Homo sapiens: one gene and its partners. The protein of the gene in region 3 purifies or fractionates together with the protein of the main gene of each other region. This does not show direct contact. Each region holds a gene or a part of one and is shown on either strand. Other genes may lie near its edges. The genes, in order: UFD1, HK3, IFT56, OBI1, IFT172, KATNIP and FOSL2.

The links.
Region 1: the proteins of IFT56 (region 3) and UFD1 purify together in Homo sapiens (affinity purification with mass spectrometry, with the first as the bait; one study listed by BioGRID). This does not show direct contact.
Region 2: the proteins of IFT56 (region 3) and HK3 purify together in Homo sapiens (affinity purification with mass spectrometry; 2 studies listed by BioGRID and IntAct, with this or other methods). This does not show direct contact.
Region 4: the proteins of IFT56 (region 3) and OBI1 purify together in Homo sapiens (affinity purification with mass spectrometry; one large-scale study listed by BioGRID and IntAct). This does not show direct contact.
Region 5: the proteins of IFT56 (region 3) and IFT172 purify together in Homo sapiens (affinity purification with mass spectrometry; one large-scale study listed by BioGRID and IntAct). This does not show direct contact.
Region 6: the proteins of IFT56 (region 3) and KATNIP purify together in Homo sapiens (tandem affinity purification; one large-scale study listed by IntAct). This does not show direct contact.
Region 7: the proteins of IFT56 (region 3) and FOSL2 purify together in Homo sapiens (co-immunoprecipitation; one large-scale study listed by IntAct). This does not show direct contact.

Annotation. Positions count from the first base shown.
Region 1 is NC_000022.11:19,469,194-19,472,693, reverse strand, and holds part of UFD1 (ubiquitin recognition factor in ER-associated degradation protein 1), read left to right. Parts: intron 1-885; coding exon 886-1,007; intron 1,008-3,500. UniProt on the Homo sapiens protein: Essential component of the ubiquitin-dependent proteolytic pathway which degrades ubiquitin fusion proteins.
Region 2 is NC_000005.10:176,896,547-176,900,687, reverse strand, and holds the start of HK3 (hexokinase-3), read left to right. Parts: upstream 1-1,341; 5' UTR 1,342-1,421; intron 1,422-4,141. UniProt on the Homo sapiens protein: Catalyzes the phosphorylation of hexose, such as D-glucose and D-fructose, to hexose 6-phosphate (D-glucose 6-phosphate and D-fructose 6-phosphate, respectively).
Region 3 is NC_000007.14:139,140,278-139,143,777, forward strand, and holds part of IFT56 (intraflagellar transport protein 56), read left to right. Parts: intron 1-1,978; coding exon 1,979-2,028; intron 2,029-3,500. UniProt on the Homo sapiens protein: Component of the intraflagellar transport (IFT) complex B required for transport of proteins in the motile cilium.
Region 4 is NC_000013.11:78,614,156-78,617,655, reverse strand, and holds the end of OBI1 (ORC ubiquitin ligase 1), read left to right. Parts: intron 1-330; exon of another isoform or gene 331-533; coding exon 534-2,076; 3' UTR 2,077-3,367; downstream 3,368-3,500. UniProt on the Homo sapiens protein: E3 ubiquitin ligase essential for DNA replication origin activation during S phase.
Region 5 is NC_000002.12:27,451,744-27,455,243, forward strand, and holds part of IFT172 (intraflagellar transport protein 172 homolog), read right to left. Parts: intron 2,918-3,500; coding exon 2,824-2,917; intron 2,676-2,823; coding exon 2,611-2,675; intron 2,420-2,610; coding exon 2,239-2,419; intron 1,997-2,238; coding exon 1,887-1,996; intron 1,771-1,886; coding exon 1,641-1,770; intron 1,528-1,640; coding exon of another isoform or gene 1,495-1,527; exon of another isoform or gene 1,394-1,494; intron 1-1,393. UniProt on the Homo sapiens protein: Required for the maintenance and formation of cilia. Plays an indirect role in hedgehog (Hh) signaling, cilia being required for all activity of the hedgehog pathway.
Region 6 is NC_000016.10:27,752,644-27,756,143, reverse strand, and holds part of KATNIP (katanin-interacting protein), read right to left. Parts: intron 1,972-3,500; coding exon 1,893-1,971; intron 1-1,892. UniProt on the Homo sapiens protein: May influence the stability of microtubules (MT), possibly through interaction with the MT-severing katanin complex.
Region 7 is NC_000002.12:28,409,858-28,413,357, forward strand, and holds part of FOSL2 (fos-related antigen 2), read left to right. Parts: intron 1-615; coding exon of another isoform or gene 616-718; intron 719-2,021; coding exon of another isoform or gene 2,022-2,072; coding exon 2,073-2,591; 3' UTR 2,592-3,500.

The DNA of each region.
Region 1 (3,500 bases), on a different chromosome or scaffold from region 3:
AACAAGGGCCTTACACATGGCAAACACCATCACTACCATCAGTTCCTTCTCGGTCTTCTCCCGGGGGCCCAGTGTCTCCTGGGTTTTCCTGCCTCTTTTTGCCAGCCCTTCCTTTATGTGCCTGTGCACCTCTTGGGTCAGCACGTCACCAGTCCAGCTTACTTGCCTCTGGCCTTGCTTTCAGCCCACACCTCAAGGTCCATCAGAGAGAGGGGGCGTCCTATGTCATGACCCTGCTGAGAGCTCACACTGCCCGCTGGGCCCAGGCCCTAGGTTCTACCCCGTGTGGTGCCCCTCCCCTTCCCAACCACTCGCACACCTGTCCCCAGCCTGTCTTGCCTAATTATCCACCATTTCTGAACTGCCTGGGCTCCTCTTCCCTTCCACGCCTTTGCTCAGGCTGCCACCTCTGCCTGGATTTCCTCCCAGGTCTGCCCGCCCAGTGCCCAGCCTAAAGAACTCGGCCTCTAGGAGCCTAGCCCAGTAGCTCTGCCCCCTCCTGCCAGCTCTTCCCACAGCACCTGCAGCATCTGGTTGTGGTTTTCTTTGTTGGAAGGTTTCTACCTTCAAACTAGAAACCTTTGAAGGTCGGGATTTTGTCCAGGGCATGGTGGGCACTGAAATTATTTATGAATAAATGAATGAACACATCACTTTTTAAAATGTTGACTTCAGAAAATCACAAGTCTATGCCAGTGCTGTGTTACCAAGTTGCCAGGTTCCTCCTTGAGCCGTGCACTGTGCTCTCACAGAGGGGGATTCATCTGCCAGAGGAGTGTGGGGTTGAGGGCAGGATTGTGGGGAGGCTCCTTCTATGGGAAGGCGTGGGCCGAACAGGTGTCCCTTCATAGGAGCTGTGCCTCATAGTCTCTCTCTTATTTTCAGGCCGACTTAACATTACCTATCCCATGCTGTTCAAACTGACCAATAAGAATTCGGACCGCATGACGCATTGTGGCGTGCTGGAGTTTGTGGCTGATGAGGGCATCTGCTACCTCCCACACTGGGTGAGTGGGGCTGCCAGGGTCTCTAGAGAGCAGCCACTTAGGCAGAGACATCTCCTGCACTCGAGAGTCCTGGCCCTGGAGCAGGTGGCCCCGCCTACTCCTCCTGCTCAGCGTCTTAGCCTGAGCCGACCCAGCGAGAGAGAAGGGATCCAGAGCAGTGCACTGTGCCTTATGCGGGCTGGTGGGCTCTGGACGCACCTGTGGGCCACTGTGCTGTGGGAGTGGCCTTTTCTTTGATAGTTGCGCAGCTGAACTGTTCATCTGTGATTTCCTGGGTGAGGCGTTTTTAAAAATAATGGAGCAACAGTATTTTTTAGGTGGTCTAGTAAGTAGGGTGTTTGAGGTTTTTATGCTTTTCCCCTACTTTTAGTAGTCTGTCACAGCATACATGTTTTCAGTTACCTCTGACGTAGTCTCCCAAATCTCTCAACTGAGCTGCCATGGGAGTGACGTCTTTTTCCTTACAAGCAGGCTCTCTTTGGAAAGTTGACTTGAAGGATGTCATTGCAGATCTGGGCTGGGATATCCAGGGCGTGTGAGCCACCAGAGCCTGCCCTCAAGGCTGTACCCCTCAGAGAAGTGAGCAGAACTGTGCCAGTGCTGTAGGGAGGAGCCTGCAGCAGTGAGAGTTCCACACAGGTAGCTGTGGCCCACTTGGCTCCTTCTTCTCCTCACTCCTCTCCCCAGCTCTGGCACATTAGGGAAGTTCACAAAGGGACCTGCTTGTCCTTCTCTTTGTGCTTGGATTACATCAGGCATACTGAGAGACCCCGCAGTGAGCTGTGGGCTGGAAACTCTCAGGAGTGCTTGCTTGGCTGCCACCAGGGAGGTGGTCTGAAGCACAGCCCACCTCTCCTGCTGATGCCCTATCATGGTGGCCGCCAGACGTTCAGAAGGGATGGCCTTAACTAATATTTTCTGAGATTAAATATGAATTGAAATTCTGGCCAGGTACGGTGGCTCACGCCTCTAATCCCAGCACTTCGGAAGGCCAAAGTGGGCAGATCACTTGAGGTCAGGAGTTCGAGACTAGCCTGGCCAACATGGTGAAACCCCGTCTCTACTAAAAATACAAAGACTAGCCGGGTGTGGTGGCACGTGCCTGTAGTCCTAGCTACTTGGGAGACCGAGGCAAGAGAATGGCTTAAACCCAGGAGGCTTAGGTTGCAGTGAGCCGAGATCATGCCATTGCATTCCAGCCTGGGCGACAGAGCGAGACTCCATCTCAAAAAAAAAAAACAACAATAATATGAATCAAAATTCTGAAGGTCTCTTTCCTGCTGTAGCAGGTGACCTTGCCCATGCTGCCATGGTAGTGGCATCCTCTTCAGCCTGGGTCCCAGGGTCCTTCCCAAGGTCTGGGCCTGGCCAGTGTCTCCCCGACAAGAGCCCTGCACTCCCATTGCACCTCCTAGTGCCTGGCCTTCCCATGCTGCCTCCTCACCTCAGCTGACTAGGCCTGCCCAACCTGGCCTGTTGGGGGGCTTTTATGCCTCAAAGCCCAGATTGGCTCACCTGCCCTCCCCAGTATTTGCTGCTCAGCCCCTTGCTATTCTTGTGTTTGTCTGCAGGTGCCCCCAAGGGCCTGAGGCCACATTGTGCTCATCCGGTAGAACACCTGGTCACTGAAGCCACTCTAGGTAGCTGAAGTGTCAGGCAGTGACTACTTCCCCAGTCCCTTCTGTGGCTCACCTATAAGAGGAGGTGGTGATGCTGGGGATACACTGTATCTCGAAGGTTCTCCTTTAACCCATAGACTTGAAGTTTGGGTGGCCTCTTGTCCAAGCTGTTGGACTGCTTTAGACCAGGAAACTAATTGAACCCTTTCTCCCCTGGAAAGCCTCTTTAGGTAGCCTGGAGCTGGTTTGGGGTGTGAAGCCATCAGGCCACCTCTTCCCCTGAGCTGGCCTTCCAGCTCCTGGCATGGGCAGGCGGGTGACAGGTATACCCCATCTGCTGTCTTGGAGGGCATGTGAGCCAGTGCTTTTTCTGGGCTGGCTGGTGGACTCCATCCCACCCATGCTCCCAAGCTTCTTCAGGGCGAGCCAGCCTGGAATAGGTACTGGCCTTTTTCCTTGTAGCCAAGGCTTCGTCTGCTGACCTAGATCCGAGCCCTGGACTAGCCGTTTGTGACATGTGGGTACTCGGCTGCCCGTTGTGCTGTATGCTCTAAAATGCTGCATGGGGAGGGCCAGGCATCAGCTCCTCCTGCCTGCTTAGTGCTCTCAGGCCTCTTCCAGCAGCCCATTTCTCACCTCAAGCCCTAGTCTGACCTCTCTGCCTGTCCTCCTCACATCACCTATGGCAGTGTCCTGCCTCTGGCTGAGGAAGCCACCCCCCATCCCTGGCCAGCCTTCCCTCAGGCTTGCAATTGCAGCCCAGTATCCTTCCCCTCGCTGACAAATTTCCCACAAAAATCTACCCAGGGACAGTGCGCCTGGCCTGCGACTGGCTAACTCTGAGCCTTAGAATACTTCCTGTTAGAACATCACT
Region 2 (4,141 bases), on a different chromosome or scaffold from region 3:
CCAGCTGCTCACAGACCTCAAGCTCAGCCATCCTTCTCCCTCCACTGGCCTTGACCCAGACTTTCCCTGGCATTCTGACTAGGGAACCAGGACCCCTGCTCCTGGGGTCTGGACACAGACCTTCCAGAAACGCAGATGAAGAGCCCTGGCCATGCTTGTCAGGGGCATATCCTCACCCTGGCTCAAGAAATGGCAGGCTATCTGCATGAATCACAGCTGGGCCTTTCATAGTCAGTTCCACATTCTCCTCTCCCAACTGAACAAAGTTGAAAGGGACTGGGATCCCAGGCTAGGCAGGATGCTGTGTTGTTTGTGACAGCCACTCTACCCTCTGCCACCCCATCCCCCACTTCCCTGCCTTTCACAGCCTATATGCCTGGTTGGTACCCAGTAAACTTCACAGCAGGACTGATGTTTGGCATGTTTCCTGGCCTCTTCATGCCACTACTGATAGAGGAGCCACTATCTCTGGTCTCCATCCTGATGTCATGTGGAGGCCTACTATCTGTGGATAGAGTTACTGCTGACAAGGCAGCCTGAAGCTTTAAAGTGTATCCATGCCTTCAACAAAGATTGTTGCAGGCTGTCTAGTATTCTACATTGGTGCCCCAAGGTTCTGTGCCTTTGAGGAGAAATTCCCACAGAAAAACAGCTTGTTCGCCAATAGCTCCACAGCAGCCTAACACTCCCCTTCTTCCAGTAGAGAAGACCTAAGATGTGAACCTACTCTCCCTGCGCAGGCTACAGACTAAAGGCTAGACTCCGCAGTCTGCCTGTCACCTCCTCTCCCACTATATATTCCTACCTTGGTGTACCCTCTTCAGGCGCCTGGAGCTGCACCTCATTGCTGTGTGTGTGTGATTTGTGGTTGTGCACATGCTCTCCACTTTGTCAAGGACCACTTTTGTCAGCATACTGCTGTTCTTTCTTCAAGACTCAGCTTCTTCAGCTAGCCCTGCCCACTCTCGGCAGAGTCAGTCCCTTCCGCTTGTGCTCCCACATTGCCTCTTGCTCAAAAGTACTTACCATAACCTTTCCAGGCTAGGCGCCTCCAGCTCCTTCTAGGGGCGAGCCACCACCTCAGAACTCACTATATTTGCAAAATAAACAGCCCTCAGCATTGTAGAGGGAATGGCCCAAAATCTTAGACCCAGTTCAACGCTCCACTTCGCGGTAATCATCTTGCTCAAGTTTTCACCACAGCCTTGCCTAGCCTGGGCTACTCTTAGGGCAGGCTTGGAAGGAAGTGCAGCTTCCTGAATTAGCTGATGTTTGGTAAGTGGTGGTGGAGGAAAAGGGTGGGGCTTGAGGATATTATAACTCGGGTCACCCCTGAGTGTTGCTTTTGGTCATTGGGGTGCCTCATATTGCCAGACAAGAGCTCAGACCTGAGGAGAGTGACTAGCTTCTCTGTGTCCCAGGTAAGCACTTCGGTCTAATTACTGCCTGCTCCTTCCACAGCTGTCTTGTCCTCATCCCTCCTGTTTGGCTCACACCAGGGGAAGTGGACACTGGAAAGATTAAGCCAGCTGGTTCTCTTTCTTTGTTTTTGAGATGGGGTCTCTCTCTCTATCACCCAGACTGGAGTACAGTGGCACAGTCAGGGCTCACTCCAGCCTTGACCTCCTGGGTTCAAGTGATCCTCCCACCTCAGCCTCCGGAGTAGCTGAGACTACAGGCGCACACCACCACACCCAGCTAATTTTTGTTATTTTTTTCTAGCGATGGCGTTTTGCCATGTTGCCCAGGCTAGTCTCACATTCCTGGGCTCAAGCAGTCTGTCTGCCTCAGCCTCCCAAAGTGCTGGGATTACAGGTGCAAGCCACCACACCCAGCCTGCCAGCTGGTTCTCGATGGCAGCTCCCAACATCAGTAGAGGTCCCTGGGGTACTTTTCAGGAGGAAAACTCACTTCGTGTAGCCCATTCAGCTAAGGGAAGCCACGGGGCCCTTAGGCAAACAGACCCTGGGCTCTGGGGATACTGCAGTGAAGGAGACATGTCCCTCCCCACAGGGAATCTCAGTGGGAAGAGACAGAGCTGAATACATTTACCTAGCATATAAATATTAGGGCTACTTGGGGATTGCTTCACAGATTCTGTCATGTAAAAATGCTGAATAAATATTGAATGGATGAGGGAATGAATGAGTGAGTGAATGAATAAATGAACTAGCTGGGCCTTGAGAAAGACACGTGTGTAGCCCTTAGTCCTTTTCGAAGGTAATTGCCCCAGTTACCTCATTTTATCCTTGAAATAGACCTGCAGCATAGAACAAGAATTCCACACCCCTATTTGACAGATTTGGAAACTCAGCATAGGTATGTATGGTTTGGGGAGATTTATCAGAAGCTGATTTGTTGCTTTATTAAATAAAAAACTACCCACTCCCCTTGCTTCCAATTTTGGAAAGGCACATTAGCACATACCTATACCAGACCCTGTGCCGGCCATGAGTGCAGAGGTGATCAAGTTGGGTGGGGTAAGGAGGTGAAGAAACTAGAAGCAGAGCTATCAGTTTAGGAGGCTGTTGTAATAATCAGGCCGGAGGATGGTCTGGTGCAGTGTGTGGGAATGGGGAGGAGGGGATGCAGAGGAGAGCTCTTAGAGAGCCTGAGATCCAATTGCATAGAGGAGGTGAGGGTGAGGGATGCGCGCAGGCAGCCCGAACGGCCGTGTGAGTGAGCACACTTCGATGTCTCCAGTCAAGGTGGAGAACAGAAGAGCTTTGTGGGGGTAAGGTGATGGAAAAATGAGTATGGCTTTGTTGAATTTGAGGAGCTTCTCCACCATCCAGATAGTGATGTCTAACAGACCACTGGGATTTAGGATTTGGCTGAGGCCAAAGGTAGATTTGGGAGCCCTGACACAGCTATTAATGAAACCTTGGGAATGGGCGAGATAAAGGGAGTGTAGAGGGAGGGCATGACCGAAACTTGGGAACCCCATTGTCTGAAGGAACAGAAATTACTGATGAAGACTACGAGAGACTCAGGAAGGAGACCTAGGAGAGACTGGCCGTGAAAGCCAAGGACAGGGGGAATTCTGTAGCAAAGAGAATGACTACTGGCTTTGCATGCCTGAGAGAGGGCAGCAGAGGTGGGGACTGAGGAAAAGGCTTGGGATTGGGCAGTTAGGAGGTCACCAGTGACCACGTGGAGGGCAAATTAGTGAGCATAGTGGGAGTAGGCAAGGAGGGGAGTGTAGGGGTGGGAAGGTACTATATTTCCAGAAGTTCTGCTGTTGCAAGGAAGGGAGGTAAAGTGACTCAGTGGACAGATGTCTCTTCCCATATTGGGCCCTCTGCTGTGTTTCCCTTTTCCCCCACCCCTAAAGAGCACCTGACTCACTGAGGGCTCCCTTGGGACTATGGAAACAGCAATACCACCTCCAGCTCGGATGAGCGAAGTATCTGACATTTCTACAGTTCCTTACAGTGTGCAAAGGACCACTAACTCCTTTAATCCTCACAAGAACTGAGCTTTTCATGTTATAGAGGAAATGGAGAATCATAGAGTTTCAGTTCAGATTCAACTACATAAATCTGAATGCACATCTGAGCAAGTTCCTTTGCTCTCGTGATCTCATTTGCCCCACACAACCCTTTGATACATGTTGGTCCCATTTCACAGATGAAAAGCCTGGAGGTTGAGATGGGGTGCAGCTGCCTTGTGGAGAGCAGGGTTCCCACCTCTGAGTACAGGGCTCTTTCTGCTCTGCATCACTTCACTGTTAAAACCCACCTGATGTTTATGTTGCACACTACATCTCATAAAGCATTTCCCCAGGTGTTATTCTATTTAGTGCTCACAACAACCTTGTGAGGGTAGATATTATTTCCTCCTGTTTTATGGATGGAAGCTGAAATTCAAAGAAGTCATAAATGACGTCCAAGGTCAGGTCACTAGTGGAACCCCTTTCTGAAGCACAGATCCACCCCTGTCCATGACCCCTGTTGCCTTCAGGATGAAATTCATGTGCCTTAGCCTGGCACAATGGCTGTCCCTTTTCCAGCCTGCCTGCTTCTCTGGCAGGTCTTTGGTTCCCTCTTTGTTCCAAGCCTCTAGCATGTCCCTGACCTCCCAACCACAGCAGCATGTCCATCTATTACATGTGGCCATCTTGCTCACTGCCTGTGCTAAT
Region 3 (3,500 bases):
TGGGCATGCTGTTGGTGGTATTTAGGTATAGTTTTATTCAGGCTCTTATGGCTGTGGACTTTATCGCTGCTTTTCCTGTTTCTAAGTGAGAAACCCAGCAATTTCAGTTTGAAGAATCCAGAAATCATCCCTTCTGCTTTCTTACATATGATATTCATCTCAGGGCGATTGTACTCAAATTTAAGAATAAAAGGGAAACATGGTAGAAAAAGTTAAAGATGGCTGGGTGCGGTGGCTCACGCCTGTAATCCCAGCACTTTGGGAGGCCAAGGTGGGCAGATCACCTGAGGTCAGGAGTTCGAGACCTGCCTGACCAACATGGAGAAACCCCATCTCTACTAAAAATACAAAAATACAGAAGGTGGTGCATGCCTGTAATCCCAGCTACTTGGGAGGCTGAGGCAGGAGAATCACTTGAACCCGGGAGGCGGAGGTTGCAGTGAGCCCAGATCGCGCCATTGCACTCCAGCCTGGGCAACAAGAGTGAAACTCCACCTCAAAAAAAAAAAAAAAAAAAAAAAGTTAATTAAAGTATGAACCAAATTAAGTTCAAGGAAATGCAGAGAAAGTGGGCACTGTAATGTTTGATAGGGAAGAATGTATTTGAGGTAAAATTAATTTATACATATAAAGAATTTCAGCCCAAATTCATGGCAAACATGGAACTTGAAGACTTTTTTTTTTTTTTAAAAGACAGGGTCAGCCGGGTGCAGTGGCTCATGCCTGTAATCCCAGCACTTTGGGAGGCCGAGGTGGGCGGATCACGAGGTCAGGAGATCGAGACCATCCTGGCTAACATGGTGAAACCCCGTCTCTACTAAAAATACAAAAAAATTAGCCAGGCGTGGTGGCGGGCGCCTGTAGTCCCAGCTACTCGGGAGGCTGAGGCAGGAGAATGGTGTGAACGCGGGAGGCGGAGCTTGCAGTGAGCCGAGATTGCGCCACTGCACTCCAACCTGGGCGACAGAACAAGACTCTGAAAAAAAAAAAAAAAAGACAGGGTCTCACTGTGTTGTCCAAGCTGGAGTACAGTGGCTATTCATAGGTGTGAGCATCGTATGCTATAGCTTCAAACTCCTGGGTTCAAGCCATCCTCCAGCCCCAGCCTCCTGAGTAGCTGAGGCTACAGCCACGCCCACCACCATGCCCAGCAAAGCCTTTCTTGATTTGTACCCAAATTATTTCATAGGTACTAATGTAGTTTTTCCTAATTTAGTTATAAGGTCCTTTATGTTACTTACTTTATCTCATATTTGTAGGCTTTATCTGTGCTAAGAACAGTGTTAGACACATATAAGGTGATTGTGGTAGCTATCTCTATTTCCATATTTTTTTTCTTATACATTGAAGTATGACTTTTTCTGTAAAAGAGATAGAATTGGGTATCCAGAATCAGAAAGTTTTCCAAGAGTGCAAAGGAGATTTGGAACTTAAAAGCTGTTAACATTTTTGCTGGACTGCCTGTTTCAGGATGGCACATAATTATGCTAGAAAATCTGTGGAATAGAGGCTGGGCTAGTATTTAGGAAAATATGGCAGTATAATTGTGGAAAAGGAGATATCAGAAGGAATTAACAAAGAATACTGGGACTAAGAGGTGAATGAGAGCAGATTCATACACACATTGAGATGACCATGGGTGTCTCTTACCACTGTTTGGTTTGGTATATGAACAACACAGAGGTGGGCTGCTACTACAACCATGTGTGTGGAGTGTTGCATGGTGGATCACCATAATAGGATCAGGTAGAACAAGCAGTGGAGAAGAACAGAATCTTAGCACCTTTCTCTTCTAGTTCTTGATGCTGTTTCTGCTACTGCAGGTGGACACCAGACTCAAACAATATGTATTCTAGCAGAGACATATTAGGATCAGATGAGTAAGGTTTGGGAAGATTCATCCGAGTCTCATTTCATTCCTACAAGGGACTGCTAGACTGTTGAGTTCTTTAATAAGCAGCTTGGATTTTTTTTTCAGCTTCAAAAAGCCGACTCCAAAACCGCCTCCTCTTCCACTTGGCTCACAAGGTATTTATGTTCTCATTTCACATTTTTTTGTTTTAAAAATATTTTTATTTTTCTTCCTTCTTGTTACTAACACTAGTGAGAGATATTTAATTAGAAATTCTTGTTAATGGTTTTCTAGAACAAGTGGAATATAACTGTTAATTGTATAGGATTTTCTCCTCTATCAATGTTCTTTACCTACTGCATTTATTCAGAGATGTTAGGTTTTATTTCTCCTTAAGCAACAGTCATATAAGAAGTTTAGACTGGCATGATAGCTCACGCCTGTAATCCCAGCACTTTGGGAGGCTGAAGCGGGCGGATCATCTGAAGTCAGGAGTTGGAGACCAGCTTGGCCAACATGGTGAAACCATGTGTCTACTAAAATACAAAAAAAATTAGCTGGGCTTGGTGGCACACCCCTTTAATCCCAGCTACTGAGGAGGCTGAGGGAGGAGAATCACTTGAACCCAGGAGGCGGGGGTTGCAGTGAGCCGAGATCGTGCCACTGCACTCCAGCCTGGGCGACAGCACGAGACTGTGTCTCAAAAAAAAAGAAGTTTAGTTTGTGTCAACTATACTATTATCTGTTAGGAAACAGACTCAGAGTCACCTTGTCCTGACTCCTAGAAATAAATATACACTTTTCAGAATTGCTGTATGGTAATAATTTTGATAATGATAAAATTATTTTTTAAATAATTTTTCAAATTTAAAATTTTAAATAATTGTTTAATTTATTTAAAAAATTGTTTTATAGCATTCCACCAAATGCATCATATGTGCCATTATTTATTCAGTGTTTCTTAGTTATTTGACTTCAGATTATTTATAATTTTAAAAATTTATAAAAATGTCATTCTGAACATCCTAGAAATGGACATACCTACTGGGTATGAGCAACTTTAAAGCTTTTAATTGATATTGCTAAGTTGTTTTACAGAAAGTTTAATCATCCACAGGCATTATATGAAAATAATTATTTCTGGTACATTTAGAAATTCCACATCATAATTGTCACTTTGTCTCTTTCTCTTTTTAGTTCTGCTTTACATGTTTTTCAGACTCTGTCATTAAGTGCACACAAACTTAGAATTGCTAGTAGACTGCCTAGCAATAATGTCTTCCTAGTAGACTGAAACATATATTATCATGAAATATCTCTCATCTCTGAAAAATTTCTCTTTGTCATATTTGTGAGCTATACTAGCTCTTTTGGGTAGCATTTGCCTATTATATCTCTCATCTATCCTTTTACTTTCTACCTTTCTATGTCCTTAAATTTAAGGTGACTCTTATAAACAGCATATAAATGAGTTTTGTGGGTTTTAAAATCCAGTTAAAATCTTTATTAAAAAAAAACCTCTAGTATATAATCCATTTACTTAATGTATTTACAAATACAGTTAGCTTCATAACTGCCATCCTGTTATTAGTTCTCTATTTGCCCAGCTGGTCCATGTGGTCTGTGTTCCTTTTTCTCTCCTTTCTTG
Region 4 (3,500 bases), on a different chromosome or scaffold from region 3:
CAAATAAGTATTTAAAACCACCCCTCCTGGGACTGCTAAGATTTCTGAATTTCAAATTGGCATTTTATGTTTGACAAGGTGACATTATATAAGAAATGTATTGTAAAACACTGCTGTATGATAGGAAAATGATTGAATGTAAATATTTCAAGATGTAGACCACTGTTCAAATGTTATCATAAATCTTTGCCATTGTTTTAGGGGATAACTCTTCATGCATATATGAGCTGAATTGATACAGCCAGCTCTTCGAGGGGAAATCATCAGCACATTTCTGCCTCTCTGCTACCATAGATCTGATTTAACCACAAAAATATCCTATTAGGTTTTGCTATTATTATCATATGTTTATTATTATGTAAGTGGGGAAACCATTTTTTGAAAATATACATCTGGCATTTGCCCTACTCATTGAGTGGTCTGAAATGTCACTGTTAGGTGAAATTAGAATAGCCTGGGACAGTTTGCACTCTCAAACCTTGAAAAGAAAAAAGCTTGAGTTATAAGATTAACTATCTTTCCATTCTTTGTAGGTTTGGAAGGTTTGCAGTTGCTGCTCTTCAGTCCAAAGTAGAACAGTATGAGCGTGAAACCAATCGCCTCAAGAAAGCCCTGGAACGAAGTGATAAGTATATAGAGGAACTAGAATCTCAAGTTGCACAGCTAAAAAATTCAAGTGAAGAGAAAGAAGCTATGAATTCCATTTGCCAGACAGCACTTTCTGCAGATGGCAAAGGGAGCAAAGGCAGTGAGGAGGATGTGGTGTCAAAGAATCAAGGCGATAGTGCCAGAAAGCAGCCTGGCTCATCCACCTCCAGTTCTTCTCACCTAGCGAAGCCTTCCAGCAGCAGACTGTGTGACACCAGTTCTGCAAGGCAGGAAAGTACCAGCAAAGCAGACCTTAACTGTTCTAAGAACAAAGACCTATATCAAGAACAGGTAGAAGTAATGTTAGATGTGACAGATACAAGTATGGATACTTATTTGGAAAGAGAATGGGGGAATAAACCAAGTGACTGTGTACCCTACAAAGATGAAGAACTTTATGATCTTCCAGCTCCTTGTACTCCTTTGTCCCTTAGTTGCCTTCAGCTCAGTACTCCAGAAAATAGAGAGAGCTCTGTGGTCCAAGCAGGAGGTTCCAAAAAGCACTCAAACCATCTCAGAAAATTGGTGTTTGATGATTTTTGTGATTCTTCAAATGTTTCTAATAAAGATTCTTCAGAAGATGATATAAGTAGAAGTGAAAATGAAAAGAAATCAGAATGTTTTTCTTCCCCAAAGACAGGATTTTGGGACTGTTGTTCCACAAGCTATGCCCAAAACTTAGATTTTGAAAGTTCAGAGGGGAACACGATAGCAAATTCTGTTGGAGAAATATCTTCAAAATTGAGTGAGAAATCAGGCTTATGTTTATCCAAAAGGTTGAATTCTATTCGCTCTTTTGAAATGAACCGGACAAGAACATCCAGTGAAGCATCGATGGATGCTGCTTACCTTGACAAAATCTCTGAGTTGGATTCAATGATGTCAGAGTCAGACAACAGCAAGAGCCCTTGTAATAACGGTTTTAAGTCACTGGATTTGGATGGGTTATCAAAGTCATCTCAAGGCAGTGAATTTCTTGAGGAACCTGATAAGTTGGAAGAAAAAACTGAGCTAAACCTTTCCAAAGGTTCTCTAACTAATGATCAGTTAGAAAATGGAAGTGAATGGAAACCCACTTCTTTTTTTCTCCTCTCTCCATCTGACCAAGAAATGAATGAAGATTTTTCACTCCATTCCAGTTCTTGTCCAGTAACTAATGAAATCAAACCCCCAAGCTGCTTGTTTCAGACAGAGTTTTCCCAGGGCATTTTGTTAAGCAGTTCACATCGACTATTTGAAGATCAAAGATTTGGGTCATCTTTGTTTAAGATGTCCTCAGAGATGCACAGTCTTCATAACCACCTTCAGTCTCCTTGGTCTACTTCCTTTGTGCCTGAAAAGAGGAATAAAAATGTGAATCAATCAACAAAAAGAAAAATCCAGAGCAGCCTTTCCAGTGCCAGCCCATCAAAAGCAACTAAAAGTTGACTCATTAGAAAGGTGTCATTTGTGGTTTTGTCCTGAGAGAAATAGAAAAGTTGTTAAAGTTACCTTTTTTCCTCATAAAAGTTCTATACAAATTGGAATTGATAATCTTTAGTCAAGTATCAAGTCAGGATGGTGGATTAACCTGTACCCAGAATACTTATTGTTCATTTTGAAAAGACTTTGTTCTTTTCATTTTTATTTGGGAGTCTTTGTGACCAGAGAAGTTAGGGAGGAGGTTATTTTTGTGTTTTGGGGTTGGTTGGTTGGTTGGTTTTGTTTTTGGTTTTGTTTTTTTACTGAATTTGATATGTATCTCGGTTGGATATACATTGTTTTTTTAAAAAATGTTATTTAACTGTTAGATACAGTGGCCTGTTGATAAGCCCCACTTGTCTTCAGAACTTGGATTTCTTAAATAAAACTTTTAGTGTTGTCTATACACTGCTCAATAAGACACTTGAGTTTAAGCTTTTCCCAGGGTGGAAATTATTTTACCTGTCCCTTTTTATTTATGTTTAGTGATGGCCTAGTTTTTCTGCAGGGCCATGATGGAGAAATAGCACTCTAGCCTTAGTCCAATATTGATTTACTTTCTTTTTTTAGGTTTTATGTATATGTTTGCATTTTTTAGCATTGTGTTTTGTCCAGTTTTGTGAAAATGTTCTGCTAGTATGAAAGAAAACATTTTCTATATGAAGACATTTGTTTTATGTTAGGTAGCTTACATTTTCTCCTCTGCGTGTGTGTGTATGTGTGTAAAATCAGAAATTTAGCATACTATGGAAAGAAGGCATGGAGCACTTGGGTTTAGAGGAACCTAAAACATCATAGCTTCATTGTTCCAGATGTAACAGGTTTGAAAGAGCTCATCGCCAAGTTCTTGATCCACTTGCATTCCAGGGGAGTTTTCTTTTGAGTAGTATGTTTCTTGTTTGCATGTTCCTGTTCTTTGTGGAAACTATGCATGGTAGCATTTTTGCTTGCTGTGTTTTCCATACTTAAGAAAAAGAGGTTTCAGTTGGCTGATAGAATATCTTTTATGTAGGACAAAACTTTTCTGTGAAGAGTGTTGAGGGGGTGAAGATAGGTAAGAGGTAAGCACAATTTTTAATTTAGGCTCTGAAAAAGTGTATTGTTCTAAACGTATTTGGTATGCCTATATAGGTCTTTAAAAATGGGTATGTATGCTGTTTAATGTGCACTGAACATTTTACATTAATATTGTACTGTTTTACATTAATACTGCATGCTTTTCTATGTGAATTGAATAAAGAATGTCATAAGCACTGTGTTCCTTGATGTCGATGATGATTCTTTGTCTCGTATATTGAATTAGCCTATAAAGACCAGGAAAAACTACTTTTTTTTTTTTTTGAGACGGAGTCTCAATCTTGTCGCCTAGGCTGGAGTGCAGTGGCGCGATC
Region 5 (3,500 bases), on a different chromosome or scaffold from region 3:
CGACAGAGCAAGACTCCGTCTCAAAAAACAAACAAACAAAATAAACAAACAAACAAAAAAACCTCAAAACCTAAGGGAAATTTTGCAGGGGCATCACCATACGAATATGTCATTTAGAGGGCCAATCTCACCCCCCTCATGACCCCCACTCACATTTCACTGTATCTAAGGTGCGTCATTTAAACTATACCTGCATCCCAATTTTAAATATATTAAAATATAATTATATATATGTATGTGTGTGTGTATATATATATATATATATGTTATTGTTAACTTTATGTATCAATTTGGGCTACAGGGTATCCGGGTATTTGGTCAAACATTATTCTGGGTGTTTCTATAAGTGTTTTTGGATGAGGTTAACATTTAAATTGGTAGACTGAGTAAAGCAAATTGCCCTCTCTACTGTGGATAGACCTCATCCAATCATTTCAAGGCATGAACAGAACATAAAGGCTGGCTCCTTCCCAAGTTAGAGAGAATTCTTCCTGTTTGACTGCCTTTAAACTGGGACACTGGCTTTTTCCTGCCTTCAGATTTGAACTGAAACATCAGCTCTTCTTGGGTCTCAAGCTTGCTGGCCTTCAAACAAGAACTACACCATCAGTTCTCCTGGGTTTTCAGTTTGCCAGCTCACCTGCAGATCTTGGGCCTTGTCTATCTCCATAACTGCATGAGCCAATTCCTTTTAATAAATCTCTTTATATACATGTACACACATATACCTACAGTCATGCATTGTCTAATGATCAGTATGTTCTGAGAAATGTGTCCTTAGGGGATTTCATCATTATGTAAGCATCATAGCACAAACCTAGATGGTATAGTCTACTATACACCTAGGTAGAGGTTGCGTAGAGCTTATTGCTCCTAGGCCACAAACCTGTACAGCACATTTCTGTACTGACTACCTATAGGCAACCATAACACAATGGTAAGCATTTGTGTATTGAAACCTATTTAAGGCCAGGCGTGGGATCACCTCAAGGGATCCACCCACCTCAGCTTCCCAAAGTGCTAGAATTATAGGCGTGAGCCACCATGCCCACCCATGTGGTCTACTGTTGACCAAAACGTTGTTATATGGCATATGACTGTATATATCCTGTTGGTTTCTCCAATACAGTATGTCTTATTATTTGTGACACATACTGGCCTGGCTTAATTTGCTGGAAGCTTCTTTTCAGGAAATGTTGGGTGGGGGAGGTGGAGCCCATGCTTTTTTCATGTTCCCTGTCTGGCCAGTTCCTGTGCCTGGAGTTGCCCTTCCAGCTCCTGTCCAAGTCTTCCCTCCTTCTTCACAGAGCCTTCCTGACCCCTCTAGCCCACAGAGATCTCACTGTTCTCTGAACTCTACTTTAAATCATGCACTTTAGTCTTTACTCAGATATGATAGTAATTGAGCCATTTATTGGTCTAATTCCCCTAACTTTTGGCTGTCAGGGCTCTGTCTTATATCCACTTTTATAGCCTTCAGAGGTTCTGGCTCTATCATCCAGCAGGCACTCCATAGATTCCTGCTACCTGATTGAAAAGAAAAAGACACAAGAGGAAAGAGCTGAAGATGTGAGAAGCAGAGCCAAGTGTGAATAGAGGCCTAGGGAGAAGGAGGGCCAGAAAGGGCCTGCTGTCCTCACCTTCATCCAGCACTTCTCCGCCAGGCCGCTGTTTCCAGAGTCTCGCACTTTGAGGTAGCAGTCCACGGCACGGCTGTACTCTCCAGCCTGCTCCCAGTGTCGAGCTTGTTCCACAAATCCCTCCACACCCCTGTGGAGATGAGAGCGCTGGGACTTGGCATGGTAGGGGGGCAGCATGCTCTATCCTGTGTATGCCTCATGACCCTCCCAGCCCTGCCAATGCTGCCTGGACCTCTGGCCTCATACCTGGCCCCCTTCTTAGTAGCTTCCCGCTCATATTCTTCCTGCAGAGCCTCCAGCTGGCTGGGCACATAGTCCTTGCAGATGCGCAGAGCGTCACTCCATAATCCAGCCTCCTGCTCAGATTTCCAGGTATCAAGAGGGCAGAGGCAGGCCTGACAGCTTCCCACTGCCACACAGGTACTCTGGCCCACAGACTCCTGGGTCCTTGGACCTCTCTTCTCCTCCTCTTTCCTGTCTTCCCCACTCCCCAATACTAACCTCCCTGATCTTTCTTCATACCAGGGGTCAGTGTGGCTCTCTGTGGGCTCTTACAAACTCTCCCCCTCCCCTCATGGCCCTGCATCCAGTGCCCCACCTTATAATAATTGAGGGCCAGGCCTGGTCTCTGGGCCCGGAGCAGCAGCCCTTCTGCTTTCTGAAAGTCCTTCTCCTCCAAGGCCCCCCGGGCCTGTCCCACAAGCACCTCGGCGACACTGTCAGGGTCGTGAGCCTCAGCCACACGCTGAGCTGCCTCCCAATCCTGGTTATGGACAAACCTGCCTCCAGGTGGGGACAGAGGAGAGACTGAGTATAGGACTGAGGCCCCAATAGTGGGAGACAAACAGCCATGTCACTGAGGGGTGTAACACTGATTTGTTCTAGGTTTGAATGAAGGTCAAGATAATCATGAAAGATCCTGGGACGGTGACTGGGGAAACAGTATTAAGGAATGTATGGGGTAACTCACATGAGGACTGCCTCCTTGGGTTTACCAGCTCTGATGAATTCAGCTTCAGCCTCTTCGAATTTACCCTACAGGGAGAGAAAGGCAGCCGTGCATGATGAGAAGGAGACTGGCATCACAGGCAGGCATGAGACTGGGGGTCTGCACACCCAGCAGCAGTGCACTAGGGGATGGAATAAGAGGGCTCTGCGGTCGGGGTCCAAATCACACCCATACCTCATCCTCCAGGAACATAGCATATTTGAGATGAACCTCGGGGGTTTTGTGCTTGAGGGCCAGCCGAGAGAGTTCAAACGCAAATTCAAAGGAGCTGAAACAGAAAGTGCAGATAAAGTTTTCTTGCTTCATGCTTCCCTTCATAAAAGGAACAAGACAAAACAGAGAAAGGACAGAGTTGAGGGGAGAAAAAGTGACAGATTTAAGGATAACAAATATGAAGTGACAGAAAAGCGTGGAGAGATAAAAAGGAAGACGGGCAGGCAGCCCTGTGAAGACCATGTCACTGTCAGCGTGGATCAAGAGACGTCTGGAAAAGCCTATGCCTTCCCTGAGGCCAGCTGCTCCTGAGGAATTAGTTTGGGCCTGCGAAGGGGAAGGGAGGAGTGAGCCTCGCAGCCCTACACTGACAGGGCTAGGAGGGCTCCTGGTGCTCTCCATCTCTTCCTGAGCCCCAGCTACATTAGCAGAAACAGAGTCTCTCCAAAAAATGAGCAAGACCACCCTCAGCATCGGACTCCATGATTGGCACTGATAACAGTAGCTTGAGAACACTTTGCTCTTTTGGCTATCTTTCTGCACCGCCGCAATAGTGCGCATGAATGTCCTGGCTGATGTGCTCAAGAGCATCAACAATGCCAGAAAGAGAGGCAAACGGCAGGTCCTTATTAGGCTGT
Region 6 (3,500 bases), on a different chromosome or scaffold from region 3:
CTGGGGAGGAGATGCGGTCGCAGAAGGGCCATAAGGGAGGGGATGTGGAGCTCACTTAGGGCACTGCTCAGACCCCACCTCCCACCCCCAGGAACAGAAGGACTTAGTCCTCTGGTGGCGGGAAGTGCTGACGGCTGGCAGCTCACCACTGAGGCTCTTGACTTGTGACTGCCCTTGGCTGAAGAGAGTCTCCTTGCAAAAAGCCATGTCCGGCTGGGCACAGTGGCTCATGCCTGTAATCTCAGCACTTTGGGAGGCCAAGGTGTGTGGATCACCTGAGGTCAGGAGTTCGAGACCAGCCTGACCAACATGGTGAAACCCTGTCTCTATTAAAATTACAAAAATTAGCCGGGCGTGGTGGTGGGCACCAGTAATCCCAGCTACTTGGGAGGCTGAGGCAGGAGCTCTCTTGAACCTGGGAGGCGGAGGTTGCAGTGAGCTGAGATCATGCCACTGCATTCCAGCCTGAGCGACAGAGTAAAACTGTGTCAAAATAAATAAATACAAATTAAAAAGTAAAATAAAAAGCCATGCCCCTCCCCAGGGGCAGCCCATAGCCAGTGCCATGTTGATACAGATAAAGACATGGCCCCTCACTCAACTCAGGATGACCCCAAAGGGCCATCCCAGGTTCCGAGCTCCCTGTGGAGCAGGCTGAGGCCTTGAAGTGGCTGAACCGCAGACCAGCTTCTCCCTCTGCCCAATCCTGCCTCCTACCCTTCCCTGACAAGAGCACACCCCAGGAAACTCCATCTCAGGGTCTGTGTCTAGGGAACCTAGCCAGCGACAGGTGGTCGTCAGAAGGCAGAGATGGAGCAGGGAGGCATCCTAGGTGGAAGGTGTGGCTTGCACAGGTGCCTGCAGGTGGACTCCAGAGATGGCATGGGGAGGTCCCGGAAGGGCTGACACCAGGATTCGGAGAGGCTCCAGCTTCATTTTGGAGATGAGGATGGGGAGGTGGGGAGGGGATCCTGACAGTGTCACATCTTTTGTCTCAGAAGATAAAGTAGAAGCGGGTCACATTCACAGGGGGCAGGAGAGAGCAGGAAGTGAGGCTGCCAGGAACCTGGTTAGCAGGGTGCAGGAGGGAGGAGATCACAATCAGCAGTGACCTTGGGCTTGAAGATTCCCCAGGACGGGGAGGGGCTGATGTGGACACGCATGGATGAAGAGAGGAACTGGCTGGAAGGATCAATGGAAAAGAAGGGTGAGGAACAGGCCCAGCAGAAAACCCCTGGGATTTGCTCAGAAGTCACAAACTGGCAGCCAGCTGGCCAGATACACAATAAGTGTTTTATTTGGCTCATGTGATATTTTAAAACATGAGAAAATTCGTTACACACATTTGAGAATCTGGAGACTTCACGTAAGACTCTAGATTTCCGACTTCTTCTGAAAAGTCAGAAGACCTGGTACCCTGGGCCTGTGCACCTGCCCCCACCCCCGGGGCAGAGTGGATGCAGGTTTTCTCTGCCTGTGCATCTACTCTTTGGTGGAGTTGGAAGAGACAGCTCGGGGCACTGCACCAACAGATGCCTTGGGTCTCTTCAGGCTCTAATGTCCTCTTGTTCTACACTTTCTGGGTGCCAACTACACCTCCTGGGTCAGGGTCATGGTCACAGCTAACACATAGGGTGTCTGCATGCAAAAATGCCCCTCAGGGAAGGCAAAATGCTAAGAGATGCCCCTCCTCTGGAGTGAGGTGGCCCTGCTAGGGCCAGGGAGCTGAGCGCAGGCTGGTTTCAGCCTCCACTTGCCCCATGGCCTGGTGTCTCTGTACAGTGTCCAACCCACCCGATTGTCCAGCGAAACCCTGTCCCAAGTGGCCACAACTCCCCCTGTCCCTGGAAGGTCCTCCTTCCACCCAACACTGCTCCAGGAGAGCTACTCACAGATTCCGTGGTAGATGCCTGGCTCTGGCGTGGTGACTTGGGGGACAGGGGAACTGGATGGGAGCTCTAGCTCCGGGATCTGCACATGGGTTGGAGAAGCAGAGGAAAAGGGGGTGGTTTTAGTGATACCCACACAGCTAGCTGGCTGGCTGTTTCTGCATTTACCACTGCCCACCCTATGCCCAGGTAAGTCCTTGTGTGTTTTCCTGGATTTTTCTGCCTTTGTGGAAGCTATGGGACCAGTGATATGGGCGGACCCTGACCCTCCAGGGTCTGCATCCTTGTCAGCAGCTCTCACTGGCTGGGGAGGAGCCTGATGCTAACAGCTAAGGTGTTTAAATTTCCTCCAACAGGGAAGGACTCAATAAATGCTTATGTGGTGAGCTAGAGGAAGAAAGAAAGGAAGGAAGGAAAGGAGGAGGAAGGGAAGAAGAGAAGGAAGGGAGAGAGGAAGGAAGGAAGGAAGGAGGAAAGGAAGGAGGGAAGGAGGAAAAGAAGGAAGGAGGGAGGGAGGGAGGGAAGGAAGGAAGGAAGGAAGGGGAAGTGGAAGAATTCAAACCATAGAGAGTGGCTCTTAACTTTGGCTGTTCACTGAAGCAGAATCTCTAGGGGTGGGGCCCAGACATTTTTAAAGATCCACCCAAGTGATTTCCACGGGTAGCCAGGATAAAAAATCCTGGTCTTCAGAGAGTCAACGGTGGGCCACCACACCCTTCTTGGGCCTTACATATAAACTATTTGCTCATTGTCTCTTTGCACCATAAGTGAAGGCGCTGGTCTCTCACGAGACTGAGAGAGTGATCCCCCCAGCCCCTCACAGCGCTGGGCCCATCAGAGTCCCTTACGAGCACCTTTGTCATTTGGAAAACGCTGGGCAAATGGAAGCGCCCAGGGTAGACTCCCACCTGGAGACCCCTGGGTCGAATCAGGAGCACAGGCACGGCTTGTGGCCCAAAAAAGGTTTGAACACATCTGAATTCACTGCCAGCATTTTTAAATGGAGAGGTTTTACAGAAAAATCCAGCTTTCTGGCTTCTCTTGTAAAAATCAGGAGAACTGGCAACAATGGGCTTGCCCCTCTTGGTGGCCGCTTTCCTTAGATGTGGGGAGGGGGAGGGGCACGCACTCCCCAGCTGCCTGTGCCTCCCCATGCCCTGCTCCTGCACCCCATGCTCTGCCTGGCTGCGAGGTACAATCCCCAGGGAACACCATGGGGTCCACACGACATGTTGCTGTCCTGCCTCAGTCATGACCTTCCCACAGCCCAGCCCCATCCCTTGTGGCTTGTGTTGTCCCCATTTCTCCCCTACCCTGTTTAACCATCTCCTCTTTTTCCTATTGGTCCTGACTTGAATTGACCTTGAAGGTCATCTTTCATTTTAAAAGATTTGTTTATCTGGCTAAGTGTGGCGGCTCTTGCCTGTAATCCCAGCACTTTGGGAGGCCAAGGTGGGAGAAGCGCTTGAGTCCAGGAGTTCATGACCAACCTGGGCAACATAGCAAGACCACATCTCTACAAAAAATAAAAAAAAAACTAGCCAGGCATGGTGGCATGCACTGTAGTCTCAGCTACTCAGGAGGCTGAGGTGGTAGGATTGCTTGAGCCCC
Region 7 (3,500 bases), on a different chromosome or scaffold from region 3:
AGCCTCCCAACTAGCGGGGATTACAGGTGCCTGCCACCATGCCCGGCTAATTTTTGTATTTTTAATAGAGACAGGGTTTCACCATGTTGGCTAGGCTGGTCTCGAACTCCTGACCTCGGGTGATCTGCCTGCCTTGGCCTCTCAGAGTGCTGGGATTACAGGCGTGAGCCACCACGCCTGGCCCATCCCCTCACTTGAGTTAATGTTTCCAGGTACCATCCACCCACTTAGGCTTGTCTTTCTCTGTCCTGCAGCCCTCACTCTGGGGTGTTGAATGAATTGAATTGCGTGAATTCTGTGATGCCTGTAGTAATGGCCCTCGGAGGTGTTAGAGCCGGGGAGGATGAGTGGGAATTCTTCATTCCCAGGTGAGGCAGATCCACAATCCACTTCCTCAGCGGGCCCTCCCACCACTAACCTTTCTGTGATTGGCACTTCAAGGAGCTGTGCCCCATGTGGCGCTCCTCACCACCCGCCCCGGAATAGCCCTGCCCCCTGAGGCTCCTCTACTTTCCTTCCCTCCTCCCAGAGGCCTCACACCCTACTCCCCTGCCTCCCCCACCTCCCCCGCCCTCTGACCCAGCCACCCAGGCCCCTGAGCCACATCCTCCACAGGAAGCCTCTCAGAAGCTCATGACGTTCGTCAGACCCTTGAGACAGACGGAAACTGTTTTTCACTCCGGAATATGCTGTCCTCTGCTGAACGAAGCCCTTGCCCGTATGTCCTCACTGATGAACAGGAATCCATGTTAGGGAAAACGTGGGGAGGAGGCTGGTGACACACACCTCTTCCCCTCCCACAGCGGCCCCTCCACGTGCACTTGCTCGCTTCTGCTTCTCTGGCTGGGGATGAAAGAAGGGGGCTGAGGTCCTTGCGGGGTGACCCTGGCATCCTCACAGGCCCTCTCGGGCTGTCACGTTACTTCTGTGTCAAGCGTGGTGGCTGAACCAAATGTTCTCTGAGGGTTCTGGGAGTCCTGAAATATGTGCTTAAGAAATTGGAGCAAAAGGCCAGGCGCCGTGGCTCATGCCTGTAATCCCAGCACTTTGGGAGGCTGAGGCGGGTGGATCACCTGAGGTCAGAAGTTCAAGACCAGCCTGGTCGATGTGGTGAAACCCCATCTCTATGAAAAATACAAAATTAGCCGGGTGTGGTGGCAGGTGCCTGTAGTCTCAGCTACTCGGGAGGCTGAGACTGGAGAATAGCTTGAACCCGGGAGGCAGAGGCTGCAGTGAGCCAAGGTCATGCCACTGCACTCCAGCCTGGGTAAGACAGAGTGAGACTCTGTCTCAAAAAAAAAAAAAAGAAAGAAATTGGAGTGAAAAAAGGGAGGAGGAGAGGCTGTGATAATCCCACAGGGATTTGCTGAGCACTTCTGAGAAGCCAGGCACTGTTCTAGGTGCTAGGGATACAGGAGTGTGCATGACAAAGTCTCCACTCTCTAGCAGCCTAGGGCTTAGCGTTTATCCATCCACAGGTGGGCTGGCATGGGGTTGGGGAGTAAGAGAAGGAGAGAGGTGGGTAGAGCTGTGTTCCGTACCCCCTTCTCCATGCAGATCTCTGCAGTACTCACCCCTCAGGGGTACCGAGGGGGCAGTCCTGGCACCAAGGCCATAGAACATAGACCCTGGAGTCAGATACATTGGGAATCAAATCTGGGCTACCCCACCTGCTAGCTCGGTGACTTTGGAAAATTAACAGAACCCCTCTGAACCTCAGTTTCCTCATCTGCAAAATGGGGCGATGATAACATCTGCTTCCAAAAAACTCCTGGAAGATTGAATGAGATCATCTCTGAAATGCTTAACACTGTGCCCTGCACAAAGTAGGTGCTGGGTTATGGCAGCTGCAGTTGTTGTCTTACCCCCTCTCCAAGCTGACTTTCCTTCTTTGGAAATGAAAGGAATCTTGAGCCTCCAGGTGACTGAGAGACTCAGACCAGCGGGGTCTGTGGTTAGGTGTGTGAGCCTCTGCTCTCACAGTGTCTGAGAACATTACTGGTTTTCTCTTTCCTGCCTAGATTGGTCCCTGGCAGGTTGCTGTCCCTCACATCCCTCTCTTTCCGTGGCAGGAGACAGAGGAGCTGGAGGAGGAGAAGTCAGGCCTGCAGAAGGAGATTGCTGAGCTGCAGAAGGAGAAGGAGAAGCTGGAGTTCATGTTGGTGGCTCACGGCCCAGTGTGCAAGATTAGCCCCGAGGAGCGCCGATCGCCCCCAGCCCCTGGGCTGCAGCCCATGCGCAGTGGGGGTGGCTCGGTGGGCGCTGTAGTGGTGAAACAGGAGCCCCTGGAAGAGGACAGCCCCTCGTCCTCGTCGGCGGGGCTGGACAAGGCCCAGCGCTCTGTCATCAAGCCCATCAGCATTGCTGGGGGCTTCTACGGTGAGGAGCCCCTGCACACCCCCATCGTGGTGACCTCCACACCTGCTGTCACTCCGGGCACCTCGAACCTCGTCTTCACCTATCCTAGCGTCCTGGAGCAGGAGTCACCCGCATCTCCCTCCGAATCCTGCTCCAAGGCTCACCGCAGAAGCAGTAGCAGCGGGGACCAATCATCAGACTCCTTGAACTCCCCCACTCTGCTGGCTCTGTAACCCAGTGCACCTCCCTCCCCAGCTCCGGAGGGGGTCCTCCTCGCTCCTCCTTCCCAGGGACCAGCACCTTCAAGCGCTCCAGGGCCGTGAGGGCAAGAGGGGGACCTGCCACCAGGGAGCTTCCTGGCTCTGGGGGACCCAGGTGGGACTTAGCAGTGAGTATTGGAAGACTTGGGTTGATCTCTTAGAAGCCATGGGACCTCCTCCCTCATTCATCTTGCAAGCAAATCCCATTTCTTGAAAAGCCTTGGAGAACTCGGTTTGGTAGACTTGGACATCTCTCTGGCTTCTGAAGAGCCTGAAGCTGGCCTGGACCATTCCTGTCCCTTTGTTACCATACTGTCTCTGGAGTGATGGTGTCCTTCCCTGCCCCACCACGCATGCTCAGTGCCTTTTGGTTTCACCTTCCCTCGACTTGACCCTTTCCTCCCCCAGCGTCAGTTTCACTCCCTCTTGGTTTTTATCAAATTTGCCATGACATTTCATCTGGGTGGTCTGAATATTAAAGCTCTTCATTTCTGGAGATGGGGCAGCAGGTGGCTCTTCTGCTGGGGCTGACTTGTCCAGAAGGGGACAAAGTGCAATACAGAGCCTTCCCTACCCTGACGCCTCCCAGTCATCATCTCCAGAACTCCCAGCGGGGCTCCCTGAGCTCTCAAGGAGATGCTGCCATCACTGGGAGGCTCAGAGGACCCTTCCTGCCCACCTTCGGAGACGGCTTCTGGAGGAACGGCTTGGCCAGAAGACAGGGTGTGAGTGAGACAGTGGGGCACAGGTTGGGTTTGCCAAACGCCTAATTACCAGGCCAGGAAGCATGCCAACAAAGCCACACGGGTGTCCTAGCCAGCTTCCCTTCACCTGGTGTCTTGAGTAGGGCGTCTCCTGTAATTACTGCCTTGCCATTCTGCC